Homo sapiens: one gene and its partners. The protein of the gene in region 1 purifies or fractionates together with the protein of each later gene. This does not show direct contact. Each region holds a gene or a part of one and is shown in the gene's direction. Other genes may lie near its edges.

Region 1 (7,040 bases):
TTTATTCCCGCTAGAAACTAGCTCTAAATTTATGCCTAAATTTCAGTAGATCTTAAATGTCTTTTTCTCACATTAAAGACAATGAGTATCCATATGTGCCATGTCAGAAATTAAAGCCATGTTAAAAATTTTTATAAAAGAATAATAAGCTCATAACATGTTAATATAAATAACATTTTTAATGAAAATCAACAATTTTGAAAACAAAAAAATAGTGAGAAAATTGGCAAATCTTTTTAATCTGGTTTAATAGAAGAGGGCCGGATGCTCATATCTGCTTCTACAGTTAATCTGTTGTTAATATGTTGTTTGGGTTGAAGTATATGAAGAAAGTCTAGTCTCACATAGATAACTCAAAAAGGGAGGCATGATTTAATAACCTTTTTAAGTAACTGTTGATTGTCTTCTTTGATACTATACTGAAATTCTTCAACAGGTGGTTGTTTCTTAATCAGTTGTAGTGTGGAATCTGGAAAACTTATCAGGGAACTTTTTGTACTCAGTTAATTAACTTGCATTGGTCTTTCTTGTACTTTGAATGTATTTTTTTATCTATGCATGGTTTTGTAACATCATGCATTCGTCATTTGGAAAATATTGGTTCACTGAGTAGTGTAGAGCTTCCAAATGTTTACAGATTACTTTATGAATATCTGTCTATTAATATCACCACCAATCTCATCACTGAAAAGCTGTCAGGCTCACTTAAAACTTAGCAGAAATAAGTTTTCTAAAATTCTAGCTTTTGCTTGAAAACAAATTTTACCATTGACAACAAATACTATCATTTGTTTTCCTTGAAATGACAAGCTTGCACATCTATTTTTGAGAAAATGTCTATCAAACAGTCAAATCTGAATAATCATAGTTTGTCAGTTGAAATTTCAAGTAAAAATGGAGTTGTGTGAAGTAGCTTACAACTCAAACAGTTGTACAAGTGCTTATTGTCAAATCAACTGTCTACTTTGGTATGTAGCAAAAATGTATTTTGCTTACTTCCCATTTAGTCACATAGAATATTTTAAAAGTGTGTTTAAGAGCTAAGTTAATAAAATAATAACTTTTACTGCCGTATTAAGGGAATTCTTGGGTGAAACTGTAGCAGGAGATTAAAGAAAAGGATCTTTTCACTATTAATATATTATTCATACATTATGTCATATAAGGGACATTTTTTAAAGTTATGGTATTTCTCTTTGGGTTTGTGTGTGTGTGTGTGTGTGTGTGTGTGTGTGTGTGTATGTGTCTCACTATTTGCAGGTACCATATGTACTCCTAAATGTGGCCAATGAAAACATAGTTTCTCATTGAAAGAGTTGACTGCACAAGTTGAATTTCCAGGTGTCCTGTGTGTTTCCAAGGGACAAGCTCTAGTAAAACATGCAACCAAATTCTCTTTATACCTGACTCACTGGACACCATCTAATGTGTGGATGTATTTGCTCTGCCTGCTATATTTGCAGGCCTCATTGTAATTTGTATTACTTTACAGGATTTGATGGTTTCAGTTAAGAGGAATAATGGCTTTCTAAATATCTCTTTAGGTCCTAGCTCAGAGACTTGTATGGATGGAATAGGTACTTAATAACTATCCATTGAATTAACCAGTTGGGAAATGTTTTTGGACATATTTCCATTAATGTATGTGGGCATTAACTTACCTTTTGTTCCAATAGGGTTCCATTTCTTTTCTCCTAGCTTATGTGGTAATATAGTTCTTTATTTAGCCTCATTGCCTTTTTAGTCCATGATCTCTATTTCAATCACATTAGACCTAAATATATTTATTAGGTGTGTAACCTTGGGCAAGTTACATAATCGTTTTGTGTTTTGGTTTCCTTGTTGATAAAATGAGATTGATAACAGTATTTACCTCATGATAGTCATTAGACTGTCATGGGTAAGTGATTTAATATACGTAAAACACTTTGAGCAGCCACCATTCATGTCAGAACTACACTAGTTTGTCAATTGCAGCCATTAGTTGGCTGTGGATAGAAACTCAATGAAAGCATTCTGTGGGCATTAGTTGGCTATGTGGAATTTACAATAAAGCATGCTGCATTGAGTCTTACAATGAAAACTGTGCACTGCACATCCTTCATGTTAGTGAAATTTATAACAAGCTAGTGTACAGATACACATGCACACTATTTTTGTTGTTTTAAACACTTACCACCGAGTAACACTGCCTCCAGTTTTGTCCCTCCAGCTTATGGATGGTTCTCAAGCATATGGATAGTGTCTGGATGTAGCCTGTAGCAGATGCTGTTGGTATCCTACCCAGATCTCCTTTCCTGGGCCAGTGCATCCATCTCCCAGCTGCTGTGGGTATTGGCTGCTAATGACTCACACCTGTACTCTTCTCCAGAGGCCTGCCCTTGGCTGACAGTAATTGCCCCAACCAAATATGTTTGGGAGATTATGAGATCATGCCCCAACCCCCTCCTGCTCCCCAGGGATGGCTAATGACTATACAAGGGTGTAATAGCTCAGCTCCCTTGCCTTTGGACTAGACAACTTCTGTGGTTCAATCCATGCTTTAGAGTTCCTTATCGCATCAAGCTGAGGCTAGATTTCTGAAACAATATCTTTGCCTAGCTTCTTCCCCCATTCTAGCTTACTTCTTTCACTTCTAGTTTCTCCTGACAGCACTCCCTCTAAATCGGGTGTACAAGAAATGATGTCTCAGGCTCTGTGTCTAGGGAACCGGACCTAAGATGTTGCTTATCTCAGTACCCCTGCTGTTTCCTTAGTTCCACCACCACCTAAGTAATGAATTCCCTATATTAAATAATCTCTGGCTTAAATTTCCTCTTTATTTTTGTTTTGTTTTCTTAGTTGGACCCTGCTTGATATGCATCAACCCTGCTCATATCCCATGTCTTCACATACTTAACATTACTCAACATCAAATGTCCTTGATCCTCTTATTAAATATATACCTAGTTATTTTTGTATAGTATAATGGTGAAATCACAGATTTTAGGACCTGAAAATTAGTTTCAAAGGCTTAGTCAATTATACTTCCCTCCTTAGATTGTTGTAAGAATTGTATGAGCTTTTCTTTTTAAAACACTTAGTACCTGGAGGATAGGAAGTGTTTAATAAATGGGAGCTGTTTGGCTACTGATATTATTCTTTCAAGAAATTTACCCCCACCGCCCCAAGCACCATGGTATGTGCCTTTAGTCCCAGCTACCCAAGAGGCTGATGCAGGAGAATCACTTGAGTCTTGAGTCCAGCCTAGGCAACATAGCGAGAACCCATCTCAAATTTAAAAAATGAAATTAAAAAAGAATTGCCCCACTTTGGATGAAATGCCTATCTCTTGATCCCAGAGGACCTAATGAGTATCTCTATGACAGCACTTTCTTGTACTCTATTATAATCTTTGAGTTTTCTTTTCTATTTCTCCCAGAAAATATAAGCTGCTCAGTGTCATCAGTGGTGTGTTGGCTCTCTGGGAGATGAAAGGACTCGATATGTAGGATTTGCTGATTTCCATAGTGACAGTGCTTTCACCCTGATTGATTTCAAGCTACCAACAGGATGTCACTGAGCACAGAGTTGGGAAGAGAAGCAAACAGGTGACCCTTGCCAGCCAGGGCACACCAACTGCAGTCCCCACTGTTTCCCTAACACATAACAATATGTCAAACATAGGAGCTAGATGTTCAGTGGATGACTGAAATACAGTTATTAACTGGTTAGGACTTGATCATATGCAATAAATTGGTGAAATTCCTTGAAATCTAATTGTCGTTATATAACCAGTAGCACCCCTTTCCTACACATGCACACATATTGCCCCTCCTATTCTTGAATGAAAGTGATGAAAACAGTCACCATGATGTAATGGGAAGTGCCTATGCCTTCCCTGGGCAGGTTGTCTGCTAACTCATGCAAATCCCAATTTTGTGATTTATTAGATACATGACAAGGGATCACTTACTTTACCTCTGTCTGCCTCAGTTTCCTCAGAGAGTTGGACTAAATCATCTCTAGAGTTTGTTCTAGTCTCAAATTTGTAAAGCTTAATTAGTATATAATTTTACTCCCTCATTCCCTCAATTTTCATTATTCCAGTACTGAACTTTGAGTTAGATGTTGTGCTATATAATGGAAATACAAAGAGGAATACTACATGACATGCCTTGGCTGATGAGACTCTCCATGTGGTGTTGCTTTTTTTTTTTTTTTTCTTGAGATGGAGCCTTGCTGTGTTGCCCAGGCTGGAGTGCAGTGGCGCGATCTTGGCTCACTGCAACCTCCACCTCCCGGGTTCAAGCGATCCTCCTGCCTCAGCCTTAGCTTCCCAAGTAGCTGGGATTACAGGCACCCGCCGCCACGCCCGGCTAATTTTTGTATTTTTAGTAGAGATGGGGTTTCACCATGTTGGCCAGGCTGGTCTTGAACTCCTGACCTCAGGTGATTCACCTGCCTTGGCCTCCAAAAGTACTGAGATTACAGGTGTGAACCACCGCGCCCAGCCTCTCCATATGTTTGTTTGTTTGTTTATTTGTTTGTTTTAATAAACATCTTATCTCATTGAGATCATAAGTGTACACCTGTTGTCTGTTATTTTTCCTCATGGGTTATGAAGCCAAACAGAATCATGTAATTGTATCAAAGGCCATGATTTTAGTTTTTCACAAACTTTAGCACTTTGACACATAAAGCTATTGTGCTAATAACTCCCTAGGTGAAATTAAACAAGGCTGTCCTGATCAGCAAGCAGTTCTGTTAAAAAAGTATCACCAAGCTAATGTTAATGGTTTGGAAAGAAGCGTTGGTGGATGTCTAGGCCATGCAGCTCTCTGAGGCAGGTTCAGTCTCAATTTTTAGAGAGTGTGTAGTTCATTTGAGATGATTAAAGTCTGAAAATATCCTTTTGAGTTTAAGTCTAGGAAGTATTTATCCTGGTTCTCTCACACACATTTTTATATAAAAGTCATTAAGAATGGCTTGGATTTTGTGTCTTCCTTCAAGGCCAAATCTACCTATTGGCTCTACTGCCTTCTTTGTTCCCATCCACTGTGATTTCTGCCTTTTCTAAATTCCTGTTTTAATCCATACCACAGAGTTTAGCACTTAATTTTTAAAAGGTACATTGGTTTCCAGTAGGAATTACTGTTGGGAACATTTTTCAGTTGCTGAAAGCTCTTTTTAAAACGAAAATTTGTTTTGTTTTTGACAGGGGCTGATAACATCCGGAAATACTGGAGCCGCTACTACCAAGGATCTCAAGGGGTAATATTTGTATTAGACAGTGCCTCTTCAGAGGATGATTTAGAAGCTGCTAGAAATGAGCTGCACTCAGCTCTTCAGCATCCACAGTTATGCACTTTACCCTTTTTAATATTGGCCAATCATCAAGACAAGCCAGCAGCTCGCTCAGTACAAGAGGTATGTCTCATTAGCATGACAACTCTTTGTCTTCCTTGCTTGTACTTTTGCTGCCACGTTGGAACCTGGAAAAATGCATGTAATTAGGAATGTGCTGGTTATGCTGCTTTCAACATGAAACCTTAGTTTTCATAGGAAGCAGAAAGCCTATATCAATCTGTTAGCACTTGTTTACATACCTAACCCTACTTGGAGAGCACAGAGTTTTCTAGCTATTTAGCAATGGTTAAAAGATGTTTCTGGTTATATTTTTCATCTATTTTGAGGGGCTAAAGGCCTGGTTATTTAATGTTGTTTTAACCTGTGGACTTAGTTCATTCTCTTCTTCAGCTTTTCTAGGAACATATCGTGAGTATTTCCATGCATTACTCGCCTTCAGGTGTCATGTTCTTGTTCCTCTGAAGTGTTCAATGTTGACTAGGATTAATGGATCCTATTCTGTAATCTGCTAGGCTGAAAATTGATGTCTTGCAAATTCCATGCCATCAAATACATTTTAACATGGAACCAATGTTTATCTTCCTCATTTAATTTTATTTCTTAGCTTGTATCTCTCCTATAAAAGCATGAGACTAATTCTAGGCAAATAGAGTCTCAGCCAATAGAGCTTGTGATTCATGGTACTGCAGTAATGAGATATGTGAATAGTTTTTAAAACTTAAATTATAGTGAATTATAACGTAAGTACAGTGAAATCAAAACTCCTGATGTATTCCTTTATACTTGTAACTTTCAGGATATGATTTCCCCTCTCCTTCAGAAAATTGCATGCTTCCTCAAGTGATTTTGGAATGAGATGATTAATATGAACAATCTTGCCTTTCAGCCTGAAAAATAAATGAGGAGCCAAGGACATAACATGTTCTAACTCCAGACCTCCCTCACACTTAGTGTGTGACCCACGGCAGATAGCCTATTCTTGTGCCTGGCTTCTCACCTCTAAAATGAGAATAATCCAATTTATTATGATAAGTTAATAGGATTAATTTGGATAATTTACTTTGAAGTTTAAACACCTAAGTAGAAGAACCATATAAATAGAGTTTTTATTCAAATTTTAGAAACACAGTTTAAAAAAAAGAAAGGCAAGGACCCATTATTCAACAGACAGAGCTCATGTCTCACTTTAGTTGCCTCATTCAGCATTAAGTACGTAGCACCTTTTAAAGAATAGAGTTTGAAAAATACCTTATAGATAATATTAAGTAATTAAGTAAAAAACAGCAATAAAAATCTATTCAGAAAGTCATTAATGTGAAGATCTTCAGCATTATAATGATGGTGTCTCCTAATGTGCTTTTAAGACCTTAGTTTGTAAATCTTTTAACTTCTCAGCATCAGTTTTTCTGCCTATAGAGTAGATATAATAGTATGTAATGAAGGGTAGTTTATGATTATAAGGTCGTTTGCTGAGAATGCATTGTTATTCAGCTATTCATTCTAAAAAATCTTGTAATATGTATGTGTACACTACTACATGTAGACAGTATAATGTGTGTATGTAATATATACATAATACATATACACATTGATAAAACATAGATATAAGTGCCATTTTAACTTCAGATAACTTTATTCAAGTTATTTGCAATATCTGAAAAAAGATTTTTTCTTTCTGCTTTTAAAGTTAT
Region 2 (7,040 bases), on another chromosome or scaffold:
GGCCCCTGCAACCCTCTTGATACTAAGAATGCAGGTCCCTTGTGTGTGTATGACTTTGGGTAAAAGCATTCTCACAGGTAGTTTCCAGTTGGAGTCTCATAATTAATTGCACAAGATGAGTATGAGAGCTATATTAAATATTATTAGCCTCCTTGTACAGATTAAAATAAAAACTCTAATGCTTAGAGAGATTACATGGTAAGTAGGGGAACCAGCCCCAGAACCCCAGACTTGGGTACCCCAAGCCTGCTTTCCCCTTTTTCTACTATACACCCCCTAAGTGTGGAAAACACTGAAATGATGGCAGTCTCCCATTGTCTATCCCTCACCAACATCCTTCTACTTCCTGGGTGATATTGTGATGTCACCCATAGTTGACACTGCAGAAATGTTCTATCTGTCCCCTGTGATTCTGGGAAAACCTCCAAAGATCAACGTGATTCTGAGATAGCTGTAATCTGTCCTCTGTGACCCCACAGCTGACAATCGGAAAAAGCAGAGGGTCCCGCAACGGGAGCGGAAGCGGCATGACTTCTCCTTGTTTAAGCTTTCGGACACGGAGATGCGGGTGAAGATCTCACCACAGCTTCTGCTAGCCACACACCGCTTCATGGCCACAGGTAGGACAAGTCTCCACTCCAGAGAAGCTAAAACAGAATCTCTAGGGTGGGACCCAGGCACCAATCGTTGTTAATACCTTCCAGCCTGATTCCAGTGTGCTGTCAGGACTGAGAAGCACTGTTCTAGGAAGGAGGTTGCCTTAGACAGGGTAATGGATGCCACCTACTGTCGTATTGAGCCCCAGGCCTGATCTCATAGAGGAAGAAATGAGTATAACTCAACTCTTCTACCAGAGAAAAGAGCTAAAGAAACCATTGCTGCACTTTTCCCTCTTCTACTCACTTCCTCGCTGAAGCCCGAGGCCATCTCCCTGTCTGTTAGACTTGCAGTGCCCTAGAGCAGTGCCACAGAAGCCTGTGAGCTATGAATTTTTAAAATACAGAAGTGTATTGTGAATCTTGGGATCTTTAGAAAGAAAAAAAAGTGAGAAAATCCAAAGATAAACTCCTTCTTGTGAAGAAGATAAAGTTTGTCTTTGAACCCTCTGACCATCCATGCCTAATTAATGTGCTGACCTAGAATGATCATATCTATCACTAACTTCAATATTTAATTAATCCAACATATATTTATTGAGTATGTAATGAGTGCTAGCACTGTTTTAGGTGCTAAAGAGTAGAAAATTTTAAGTTGGAGCTGCTTTAAGATAGAATTTCTAGTTCTGAGTACAGATTTCTTTTAACTACTTCCCAGAGCCTATGTTATATAAGTAATATAAGTTTAACATATGTAATATAAGCAATAGCTGTAATATATAAATATGATGCAATGATGCCTCACATTATTGACAACTTATTATTTAAATAATTGCCTGTCTTTAGTAACATGGGATTTCATTTCATTCAGCAGATATATGTCATACAAATAAGCCAGATTAAATTATCTGCATTTCATTCAATTATAGCATTAAAGTCTTTGTTGTTTATGTGGCTTAGTTGTCCATGTCCAATTTTAAATAAAATCAAAGAAAATTAATAATGAAACAGACATTTCCAAATGGAGACCTGTTTCTCCTGAGATGCCAGTGCAGGGACACACATCTCCAGAGGACGTGGGTAAGGCCCTGAGATGCACACTTGGGATTAGGATCCTCCACTCCGGAGGAACTGCAGAAGCCCTGCCAACCTGATGCCCAGGTACAGGCACAGGGGTCCCAGTTGTGCCCACTCTGACTCCTCCCAGCTGCCACTGCTGGAATGGGTGGGACACAGCTGATGCTGATTCCTCCCTTCCCACTCACTCTCCTCTAGAAGTGGAGCCCTTTAAGTCTCTGTACCTTTCGGAGAAGATCCTGCTCCGGCTCCTGAAACATCCCAACGTGATCCAGGAGCTGAAGTTTGATGAGAAGAACAAGAAGGCCCCGGAACACTACCTCTACCAGCGCAACCGCCCTGTGGACTACTTTGTGCTGCTTCTACAGGTGAGTAGGAAAGTCAGGGAACCTCTGAGAGCCAGAGGAGGGCATCTCCAGGGTGAAGAAATGGCCATGCCTCCGTCAGCACCAAGTTCCAAGACTTGGCTGGCTGCCTCAGCAACAAGGCCAGCTGGGTGGACATTTCTTCATGACCCACAGGAGGGGCCTAGACATGGAAGACTGGTGTCCTGGGAGTGCTGGGATCTTTGACATTTAGTTTGACAACTCAGCGATGTTTGGGGTGGGTTGAATACCTCTCCAATAGAGGGGTTCTGCATCTAAACTTCCAGAACTGCTGCTCTGCGGAAGCTATAATACCTCCTCATCTCTGCTTGAACATCCCCTGAAATGAAACTGCCCACTGCCTCCTAAACTTTAGACAACTCTTCTTTAAACCCTTCTCTCTGTCAAGTGGAAATCTCACCATCTGTGACTTCCATACTGGTCCTTGCTCTGCTCTCTGGAGGTACATGGGACACATTCATTCTCTCAGCTGCATTTCAGCCTTTGCAGTTCCTGAAATCTTCTCCCCCTTCAGAGGACCAGGAAGGGGGAAAATGACCTGTTCAAAGAAGTGCAACATCTCCCCAGTGCTCACATAAGTATGATCACCTTCTGCTCTGGATACCTGAATAGGCCTGTCTTAAATAAGTGTCTGACATGATTGCAGCTTGTAACACTGCTGGTGCCCTGTCTGGCTTCACCATTAGCTCTGTCACTGATTCCCTGTCCCTTCCCAACATAATGTTGTGAATCCTAAATACACTGATTGTATTTTAAAATCTTGATTAAGCTCACATGAACTTAGAAATGGTCTCTTTGTTACTGTCCACTTCCAGCCTCTCTGCTCTGTCACTGTAACTTGCCTCACATATATCTTTCCAAATGGTCTGAACAAAATGACCTCTCTTCTCCAAAAAATGTAGTCATGTGCTTCACTGTTGGAAATCAACAAGAATCCTGTTACATTGTTTGTATAATGTAATGATCACATAGTTTCATGTCTTATGCTGAATATAAACTTAACGGTTTTCAAATAAAACATGGAATAAAATGTAGTAGCAAGAGTGTACGCTCAGAAATTTGAAAAATATGGCTTTAAAATTCCATTGTTGCCATTTCCTAACTAACCTGGACCAAGTTATTCAATCTCTGAGCCTCAAAATTGAGTTCCCTGTAAATCAGGGATAAAAATGGCATAGGCTTCATGGGGTTGTGGGGCTAATTGCATGAGAATCTATGCAGTGCACATAATACAGTGTCATGTCCATGCATGCTATGCATTACATATCAGCTATCACTATTATTGGCAATGAATTAAACAAGCTTCACACAGAATTAGATTTTATCTTTTTTTTTTTTTTTTTTTTTTGAGACAGAGTCTCGCTCTGTCACCCAGGCTGGAGTGCAGTGGCCCGATCTCAGCTCACTGCAACCTCTGCCTCCCTGGTTCAAGTGATTCTCCTGCCTCAGTCTCCTGAGTAGCTAGGACTACAGGCATGCACCACCACACCCAGCTAATTTTTGTATGTTTAGTAGAGATGGGGTTTCACCATATTGGCCAGGCTAGTCTCAAACTCCTGACTTCGTGATCCACCCACCTTGGCCTCCCAAAGTGCTGGGATTACAGGTGTGAGCCACCGCACTCGGCCTAGATTTTATCTTGACCTGACTTAGAAATGGTCCAATCTTGGACTAAACCAGTGGGGCAGTTTATGAGGCCCTGGATTAGCTGGTGCTTAGGCCTGCATCATGGAAGGGCCACTACAGTATGCAAGGACAGCTTGGTTATTCATGACTGGATGCTATTTTATGAACAACGAAGCACTGAATTTACTGCAAAGAGCTATTAAAGCTGGTGGTGCTTTCTCACATGTAAATCTGGAGAGAATTAACATTCCTCTGTGATAAGAACATGGGTCTAGTCCACTTGTTATCCAAGCAGAAATGCTTAGGATTCGAGTCAATAGTAGAACTGGAAGTGCTCATACACATTCATAGTACACTTCCTTTTTTTTTTTTCCAGGGTAAAGTGGAGGTGGAGGTTGGTAAGGAAGGCCTTCGCTTTGAAAATGGAGCCTTTACTTACTATGGCGTCCCAGCCATCATGACCACTGCTTGCTCAGGTATTCTAGTTTCCATTTGTTTATTGGGAAAGTAATGGGATATGGTAGAAAAAGCACAGGGGTTCAAGTCTTGACTCCCCCTTTGACTCTTGTTAATCAGCCTGGACAAGCCATTTAACTTCCTTGGCTTTAGTTCCTTCCTCTGCAAAATGGGTGTATGAATCACTTTTCATTCAGTTAGTGCTTAAAAAAAAAGTGACAAAAAATTGAATTGTAAAAAGCAGTAATATTGTCAAGTGTTAGGGATCTAGGGTGGTAGATTTCAGTATGAAAAGACAAGTTTATTTTGCTTTTTATACTTGTTCCCTACCCTTCCATTTAATTGCCTGGTTTTTACAGGGTTAATTGGTGCTGGGGGTGGATAGAAGAGGGAAGATTCCCATAAGAAGTGTGTTTTCTGAGTTGCCTCTGAAACCCACTGCATGCTTCTGTCCTTAGATAATGACGTGCGGAAGGTTGGAAGTCTGGCTGGATCTTCTGTCTTTCGTATGTATCTCTCAAACCCCTTCCTCGTCCTCCCCATCGTAGTCCTGCCTCAGCCCGCTCTGGGGACCTGGACCGAGCACTTTGAGCCTGGGCTGGGGCTAAGACAAATGCTGGCAGCCCCTTTGTAATGTTCTGCCAGGAACACTGCTTCCTGCCAGGTACCCACAGACCATGGGAGCTTAGGTTCTGTGTGTCTGGAATGTTTTCTGCTGCTTCTCTGCTCACATGGTTGGGGGGATGCAGGGGTTGTGAGGGAAGGCACTGCTTATTGCCACCTTCCAGTGAATGCAGGCAGGTGATTTGTGTGCTTGGGCAGAGGCTCAGCCCTTCCTTCTGTGCAATAACAATTCACCCATGGCCTTTACTCAAACACTGTCATATGCTATTATTGTGTCTGTGGGGTTTGTCCTCAGTAAGAAGTGACTGCAAGATTTGGGGATGTAAGTTCCACCTTTGTGCAATACGTTGCTTATCTGCCTCTCTTTCTTGGTTCTCCACCTCTCAGCTAGTGGAGAGGTATCTGCCAGCTGGCTGTGCATGCTGTTGGTGGGGGGCAGGCACAGGGCTGATGGCTGGTTTGCTCTGCCCTTTCTGTGCTGTGCCTTCTTGCTGTTTTCTGTGTAGTTATTGCACTTGTGCTTAAAGGGCATGGCATTTTTTGTGATTAAAAGTGTGATACAGAAAGAATTATTTCTCTAGATTTCTTTCTGATTCACAGTTCTGAATTTTGCATTGCTTTCAGCTGTTAGTGTTTACAGTGACCACTTCAATGCCAAATAGGGTCTTTCCTCTCATCATAAAAAAAGATTTTACATATTGCCTTGTGGTGGGAATTATCAGAGGGTCCCAGAGCTTGATATCATAGTCCCTGGAACATGGCAAGGTAGATACCATTTTAACATGAGTGAAACTAAGGAAATGACTTGCTTCAAATCACCCAGTAAGTTGGTGACCGGCCAAGATGCTTCCTGGTGTCCTGGCTAGTTCACACAGCACAATAAAATACAGATTTCAGATCCATCATATTCTGGAATGCAATTTCTAAGTGGAAATAGTGGAACAATTTACAGTGTAATTGTTACAGTGTAATAGCCCAGCCAGTGGTTGAAATGAAGTACCTGCCCAGTGTGAAGAGTGGCAGAACTTGAGTTGGAGGAGATCTGTAAAATTGAAAAGACCCTGGTACATTATTATACTTAAGACAATGAATCTCAATCAAGGTTGATGAAGGAAGCATTAGTGTTCAGTAGAACTCTGGATGGGTGAGGGACGGGCTACAGGACTTTGGCAAACCTTAGTTCTCTAAAGGAAATCTCCATCATCCATCACATTAGGGACTACTCCTGGGATTCTAATATGTTACCTAGAAATGTCTGTGATCTCTTCCAGAAGACTAAAAGAGGTGGAAATTCTGAGAAAAAAAGACCTACATATGGCTTCCTAGCCCACCCAATTTATATGACCTTCTTTCTTAAAAAAAAAAAAAAAGAAATTGCTGTGGCCGGGCATGGTGGCTCTCACCTGTAATCCCAGCACTTTGGGAGGCCAGGACGGGTGGATCACATGGTCAGGAGATCGAGACCATCCTGGCCAACATGGTGAAACCTTGTCTCTACTAAAAATACAAAAATTAGCCAGGCATGGTAGCACGTGCCTTTGATCCCAGCTACTAGGGAGGCTGAGGCAGGTGAATCACTTGAACTTGGGAGGTGGAGGTTGCAGTGAGCCAAGATCATGCCACCGTACTCCAGCCTGGCTACAGAGCAAGATTCCATCTCAAAAAAAAAATTGTTTTAAGTAGAAGGAAGATGTTATCTGATTTCTTCCTTTCCTTCCTTCCTGTTTCTAGTTCTTTCTTTCAAAAGCTTTCAGTTGCATCAGTGAGATAGAAATAAAGTTGCAACATTGATTTCTCCTTTAAAACTAGTTAACTGAAAAGAAACATAGCACTCTTTCTCTTTCTCTCCCCATGTTACTGAGCATCTCTGTAAATCTTCAGAAGGAAAAAGAAATATTATTAGCCAATGGGGTAAAAAGACATTTTCCATCCTCCCCGAACCCATACTTAGTGTAGTGAAGTGTGAAGTAACTGCAAAGGCCAGCCATACCCCACAGTTATCCCGGGTGAATGCTCAGCCCATGGTCCAGCCACCCAGCATCTTTCACTGGCCAAGAACCTCAACCTATAGGTTGAGGGAGAGCTTAAGTCTAAGCTAAAAGGCAATAAAATCTTGTAGGGTCTTGGCCCAGCCCCGTCCCCCTATGCTTGAAGCTAGCTTAATCAGCCTTTGAGGATGAGGAGTGAGATTATGAGTTTGCTGGAATACTGGCACGATGACCTATGCTTCAAAGTTGAACTTGAGGCTACAAAGAAGTCTCTGGCTTTCCTGCAT
Region 3 (7,040 bases), on another chromosome or scaffold:
CAGCCTGGGCAAAAATAAAAATTTAAAATTTTTTAAAAAAAAGAAAAGAATACACTCTTAATTTTCTTTCCAAATGGATAAGGCCTATTTTTGTTGTTGTTGTTGTGACCTAAGTACTATTTTATTCCCTTGATCATTTTCATGCGCCTCTTTTTCTGAGTCCTTTTATCTTTGCTTTGGTTCATCAACGAAAACTGTATTCACAGATGGGGAATAAACGGTGGAATTCCTTAGAAGCACCGGATTCAGTTTTGTTTCCATGGGACTTAAAGTCTACTTATATCAGATGCCCTTCATTTTTTGATAAACTTGTAAGTACTGTTTTACTATTTGATCTTTTAAAGATTGTTATAAACTAAGAAGTCTTGTAAAGAGTTAAATGCCTTGAACTTTTACCTTCTAGACCAAAGAGCCAATTGCACTCCAGGCTATTGAAAATGCCCATGTCTTATTATATTTGGGAGACTCTGTCACAACAGATCATATATCACCTGCAGGAAGTATCGCTAGGAATAGTGCTGCCGCTAAGTATTTGACAAACAGAGGGTATGTGTACATGGCTTTAGAGTGTTTTTGTTTTTTCTTGTTTCTTACTGATTAAGAGGCTTCTATTGGTCTTGTTCCTTTTTTCCAGTAAATACATGCTATCGTAGGTAATCTGACTGCCAATGTGTTTGTCTTAAGCAAGAATGGAGAGTGGCGGGGTGGGGAGGCGGGGGGTACCTTCTGTACTTGTCTTTGCTTGTGACTTTAGAAAATGAAATTGCAATTTTAAATTGAGCCCTTATAGTCTAAATAAACAGCTGATTGGAAATAAGATTTTTCTTTTTCAGTGCTACTTTATTGAAAAGTCAGCTTGGTTTTACCTACCAAATGAAGCCTGCTCATTTGGTTAAAACCAGCTTCCCATTATTGGAGTAAGGAATTTAAATGTGTATTTTATGGGCTATAACATGTACGTGTGTGAGGCTGGGAATGATATGTACAAATCAAAAGACAATGAATTTCTGCTTCATGAGCCTAAAATTTTATAGGAACAATAAACGTAAAGGCCATTTATATTGGAGATATAAATTTAAAACTGGTAAGATTTCATTTCTACATGATTAATCATGTAGAGTTGCCCTGTTATCAAAGGACTGTTTTGACAATAGAGACAAAGTTTTGTTAAAAGCAGGATTTGTAGTACTGCTACCTGATTAGCTTATTGGATGCTTGTTTGATGCTTGAGTAATTAAAATGACAAGCTTTTTCATTGAAATTTATTTATTTATGTATGTATTTATTTATGTATTTATTTTTGAGACAGACTCACTCTGTCACCCAGGCTGGAGTGCAGTGGTGTGATCTCAGCTCACTGCCACCTCTGCATCCCGGGTTCAAGCAATTCTCCTACCTCAGCCTCCCAACTAGCTGGGATTACAGGCACGCGCCACCATGCCCAGCAAGTTTTTATATTTTTAGTAGAGACAGGGTTTCACCATGTTGGTCAGGCTGGTATCAAACTCCTGACCAAGTGATCCGCCCACCTCGGCCCCCCAAATTGCTGGGATTACAGGCATGAGCAACCGTGCCCAGCCAAAATGTCAATGTAGCTTGTGTTGACATGTGATAATATTGCACAGCTTTTATTATAAAGTGGTGAGAAATAAGTTTCCTTTCCTGTAAATATTTTTTTGGTTGTGATTTCCATCTTCATCATAATTGTGACATACCTCCAAAAAAGAAAAACAGTCAACACTTCTCTCAAATGTACAATTTTTGTAATTATTATGCCTCCTGATATGTATTTCTTAGCACATTTAATCCAGTAGTGCTCATCAATTAGAATTTTCTAAAAATAAAGACACTCAAACCTCCTACCACTCCCATCCTGAAGTAAAAATTTAAATGCACAAATTTAGAATATTGTTGCCTCTGCATAAAAGACCAAATCAGAGGCTGATAAAAGTCAGTTGTTGATTGTTGAGATACTTATGTTCAGTTATTTTTCCCTAAAAAGTTATATATGGTCACTAATCCAGTAGCAATACCCCCCGCACCCAGATTATGATTTCTAAATACTGTTTCCCACTATAGTGAACCAGTGCTTCATGGAGAAATTATTGATTCCAGATCTGGGACTGGAAAATGTACACAATTTTACCAAAAATTACCAAGATTACCAAAAATAAAATTACAAAGATTACCTGATGGTCACAGACCATCAGGCTTCTGTCTAAAGGTCTCAGGGTCAGGACCAGCTCATTAGCTTGAAAACTGGTAAATAATCAATTCTTTAACCAGCCTTTCATGTATGGAATGTATTTCAGCATAACCAAATCATTGATGAAGGAAAGTTTGTCATTTGTTTGTTTGTTTGTTTTTAGAGACAGGGTCTCACTCTTGCCTGGGCTGAAAGGCAGTGGCACTTGGCCCTCTGCTGCTTGGAACTCGTGGGCTCAAGCACTCCTCCTGTCTCACCCTCCTGAGTAGCTTGGGACTACAGGCTCGCACCGTCATGCCTGGATAATTTTTAATTTTTTGTAGAGATGAGATCTCCCTTTGTTGCACAGGCTGGTCTCCAACACATGGGCTCGAGCATTCCTCCCACTTTGGCCTCCCAGAGTGCTGGTATTGCAGGCAAGAGCCAACATACCTGCTGGAAAGTTTTTCTTTATAGAACTTTTGTACCTAAAAAATGAAGAAGGAATGGGTGAATTATAGTATCACTATTTTACGGTCTCTAATAAGCAATCTAGACCACAATGAGCAATCACTGGTAACATTCCAGGAAAAGACAGTTGGCTATCTTGTGCCTCCTAATAGAAGTACATATGACCTATGAAGCATTGTTGCCAAAAATTAAAAACCCAAATCTTATCAAACCACTGGATCTGACATGTGATTTACAAGAACAGAAGGCAGAAGAACATGTTAAATGATTCATGGAGATGCAGTCAACACAATGTGGGTACAGAAAACTATACAAGTAACTTTATTGCATCAGATAGAGCACAAGCAGGAGGAAGGAGAGGGAACATATACTGTCATTCTTCAGTATAGATGTGGGACTGGTTCCAGGACCACCCATGTATACCCAAATCCACACATACTGAATTCCTACAGTCAGCCTTGCAGAAGCCACATATATGAAAAGTCGTATTTGCAGTTTTCTGCATCCTGTGAATAATATATTTTCTGTCAGTGTTTGGTTGAAAAAAAATCGATGTATAAGTGGACCCACACAACTCAAATTCATGTTTAAAGGTCAACTGTAGATTAAAACACTTGAGATCAACTGAACACATTTATGAACTGCATTTGGATCCTGATTTGAACAAACCAACTTAGTTTGGAAATAATCAGTGACAATATTGACTATCTGATGTTAAGAAATTATTGTGATTTTTTTTTTTTGGTGTAAAGATTTTTTTTTAAGAGTCTACATCTTTTAGTGAAATGTACTGAAAAGTATGCTGTTAAAATTATCTCAGTTTTGCTTCAAAATAATCTAATGGGGTTGACTGTAGAAGAAACGGAGCATCTGTTAAGTTATAGCTTGGTGATAGGCGCATGGACATTCATGGTTTTGTTTTCTTTTGTGTTTGAAATTTTCTGTGATAAAAAAATTTTTCAATAGGTCTTACAGCTCAATAGTATGTGATTATTTTCCACATGTAATGAAAACTGACTTTCATTACTTTCTTGTAGCCTTACCCCTCGTGAATTCAACTCTTACGGAGCTCGAAGAGGTAATGATGCTGTAATGACAAGAGGCACTTTTGCAAATATCAAGCTTTTTAATAAGTTTATTGGAAAACCAGCTCCTAAAACAATTCATTTTCCATCAGGACAGACGGTGAGAATGCAAACAAAGTATTTAGACAATTTATAACTGGATCAAAATTTGTATTAAAAAATTTTGTGTTTGTTTTAATCTACAGCTAGATGTATTTGAGGCTGCAGAGCTGTACCAGAAAGAAGGTATCCCACTGATTATTTTAGCAGGAAAGAAATATGGTTCAGGAAACTCCAGAGACTGGGCTGCCAAAGGACCGTATTTACTGGTATTGAATCTTAAAATTTATCATCTTAAGCTTCAAAGAGTTTTAACTGTTCCCTTTTGTCAGTAACATCCTGTCAAAGTTTATCTGGATTTTTTATAGTTATTTGAACCTTATAGGTATAGAGGGTTTTGTTTGTTTGTTTATTTCAGTGATCTTTGGTAATATTTTGTACTCATCTAGTTAGTATCATTTTAATACTCTGAGTTTGGTAAAACCTACATCAGTCTTATGTGAAGAAGTCAGTATAATAGAGGGAAAGGAAATTCTGTTTTAAACTATTGTTTTATAATTATTTATACCTATTGATCATTTTTTTTGGTTTTTTAGTTTTGAGACCATGTCCTTGTCACCCAGACTGGAGTGCAGTGGCGCAATCACTGCTTGCTGCAGCCATGACCTCCCAGGTGCAATCAGTTCTCCTGCCTCAGCCTCCCAAGTAGCTGGGACTACGCCATGAGTTACCACACCTGGCCAATTTTTGTATTGTTTGTAGAGATCGGATCTCTCTATTTTGCTCAGGCTGATCTTGAACTCCTGGGCTCAAGTGATCCTCCCGCTGTGGCCTCCCAGGGTGCTGGGATTACAGGCTTGAGCCATGTGCCCGGCCCCCACTGTTAATTTTACTTGCCTCCTTTTGATTTAATTTTCTCCGATTTGCCCCATCAGTGGGTAAAAGACTCAGAAGTAGTAGGCCAAGTTGCACCTTTTTTCCCCCTAAATAGGAGATTGTGGTGCCTGGCTGTCTGCCAGGAGGACATTTCTCCTGAGACTGTTTCCTTGTTGCAGAGCAAATAGGCCATCTGCTGGGGGGGAATAGTCATGTGACATGTGCTTTTTGCCATTTCATACTCACAGATGCTTCTCTTTACAATTGTAGCTGTAAAAAGGCTGGCTGAAACACAGATACCATGCAGGCCTCATTCTTATTTTAATCTTTAATATCTCCTTTAAAATGTAAATACTCTGAGGGGCTGTGGGAATAAAACAAAATCTCATCCTTCTAAGATACTAATTATAAGTATTATTATGAGTATTAATGATAGGTATAGGTTATTTTTATCCTGGAAATTGTTTTAGTGTTTGTTTTTGATGTTGGAAGCTTTCCTTATATGGCAGGTGATGCTTGGCCCTCCATTTGTTAGACATTAAAAAACTGATTACAAGCCATGGATGGGGGCTGGGTTGTGTCAGTTACTGGGCCTTACTATAGGTGACTGGGTGATAAGCTACCTTTTTCATTAAGCGATTCTATATGTCATTATCTGTATTTTCTCTGAGGCCATTCAGTTTCTTGAAGGAAAGAGACTCGTTCAGTATGTAGACATCTACTTAGTCCCCTGTTTTCAATCTGGTATTCTCAAGCCCCTGTGCCCAGTGTTTGTCAGTTTAGAGAATGTATTCTCTTCCTTATTTCTGCTATAACAAAAAATGAGTAAAAATTTGTAAAAAATGAGTAAAAAAGAACAAAAATTGGTCCTCAGGTGGTAAAAAAAATTCTACTTTTTGCACATAAAGTACAGATAAGAGTACATTAAAAGATACACAGCATCTTTGTGGTACTAAAATTTTGGAGAGAAGGGAGGTGAACAGGAAGACACAATTTGGGGGAAAAAAGTCTTAAAAGACTCCTTAGGTAGACAGTGGAGAAAAAAGTTGAAAAACACAAGTCTAGAGCCTTTGGCTCATTTTTTCCAGAGAATAAACCTCTACTCTTGTGGAGTGGGGATTGAGCTGGATCTTACTGCTTTGTATGGCCTTGTAACCTGTGTCCACGAGTATTCTGAGAACCTCATGCCTCTGAATCTCAATCCTTTTCCTGGGTCTTGTGTTGCACATTAACTCAGACCTTACTGGTATCACTCTCTAATTTCATTTTATCATTCTGCGGTTTCAGCATTGTCTTCTAAATCACTTACCTATCTCTGTTTTCTAAATATTCATAGAATTCTCTCATCCTATTCCCTTTGTTGCTGTGGGCTTATACCCTCTTCATTATTGTTGTTACTTATTTGTATTTTTTGGAGACAGGGTCTCACTCTGTCGTCCAGGCTGGAATGCAGTGGCATGATCTCAGCTCCCTGCAACCTCCACTTACAACCTCAAGTGACTCTCCTGCCTCAGCCTCCATAGTAGCTGAGATTACAGGTGTGCACCACCATGTCCAGCTAATTTTTCTGTTTTTAGATAGAGATGGAGTTTCACCATGTTGGCCAGGCTGGTCTCAAACTCCTGGCTTCAAGTGATCTGCCCACCTCGGCCTCCCATAGTGCTGGCATTACAGGTGTGAGCCACTGCATCCAGCCTATTCTTGTTACTTTTTATTGTATTTTTTATTTTTATGTTTTGTAGAGACAGGGTCTCACTATATTGCCCAGGCTGGTCTCAAACTCCCGGCCTCAAATAATCCTTCTGCCTCAGCCTCCAAAGTACTGGGATTATAAGCATATAAGCCACTGCGCCTGGCCCTATATACCTTCTTTATTCCTTTATTTTAGTGGCATTTCAAGAGTGTTGAAAACATATGTTAGATCTGGCATGTTTAAATAGAAATCCTTCTGAGCCCTACTTTGGGGTCAAGGGAGCCGGCCCATTTATAGAGCTCTTATGATGTGGTAGGCAGCGGCAGTACTTAACCCTAGAGCAGCAGAAAGGGATCCGAATAATTTAGAGAGCTCCATAAAAATTCAGAAAAATAATCTGTAAGAAGGTTCTGTAAATACTTTGATAAAATATTGATTCAGTATGAGATATTAGACTAAAAGTATTTAGAGAAAGGCCAAAGTAGATTTTTGCCCCCTTTAAATGCTCAATAAATAACTTTCAGAAGTGATTAGAGGGAATAAAATGCACATTTATTACAGGGTGTGAAAGCTGTTTTGGCCGAAAGTTATGAAAAAATACACAAAGATCATTTGATTGGAATTGGCATAGCTCCACTTCAGTTCCTTCCAGGAGAAAATGCAGATTCCTTGGGCCTCTCCGGTAGAGAAA

The links.
Region 2: the proteins of ARL15 (region 1) and CNNM1 purify together in Homo sapiens (co-immunoprecipitation; 3 studies listed by BioGRID and IntAct, with this or other methods). This does not show direct contact.
Region 3: the proteins of ARL15 (region 1) and IREB2 purify together in Homo sapiens (co-immunoprecipitation; 3 studies listed by BioGRID and IntAct, with this or other methods). This does not show direct contact.

What each region holds. Positions count from the first base shown.
Region 1 is NC_000005.10:54,111,571-54,118,610, reverse strand, and holds part of ARL15 (ADP-ribosylation factor-like protein 15), read left to right. Parts: intron 1-5,200; coding exon 5,201-5,409; coding exon of another isoform or gene 5,410-5,496; exon of another isoform or gene 5,497-7,040.
Region 2 is NC_000010.11:99,360,356-99,367,395, forward strand, and holds part of CNNM1 (metal transporter CNNM1), read left to right. Parts: intron 1-479; coding exon 480-620; intron 621-1,871; coding exon 1,872-2,041; intron 2,042-4,061; coding exon 4,062-4,161; intron 4,162-4,599; coding exon 4,600-4,647; intron 4,648-7,040. UniProt on the Homo sapiens protein: Probable metal transporter.
Region 3 is NC_000015.10:78,490,216-78,497,255, forward strand, and holds part of IREB2 (iron-responsive element-binding protein 2), read left to right. Parts: intron 1-206; coding exon 207-311; intron 312-403; coding exon 404-546; intron 547-3,693; coding exon 3,694-3,841; intron 3,842-3,926; coding exon 3,927-4,049; intron 4,050-6,910; coding exon 6,911-7,040. UniProt on the Homo sapiens protein: RNA-binding protein that binds to iron-responsive elements (IRES), which are stem-loop structures found in the 5'-UTR of ferritin, and delta aminolevulinic acid synthase mRNAs, and in the 3'-UTR of transferrin receptor mRNA.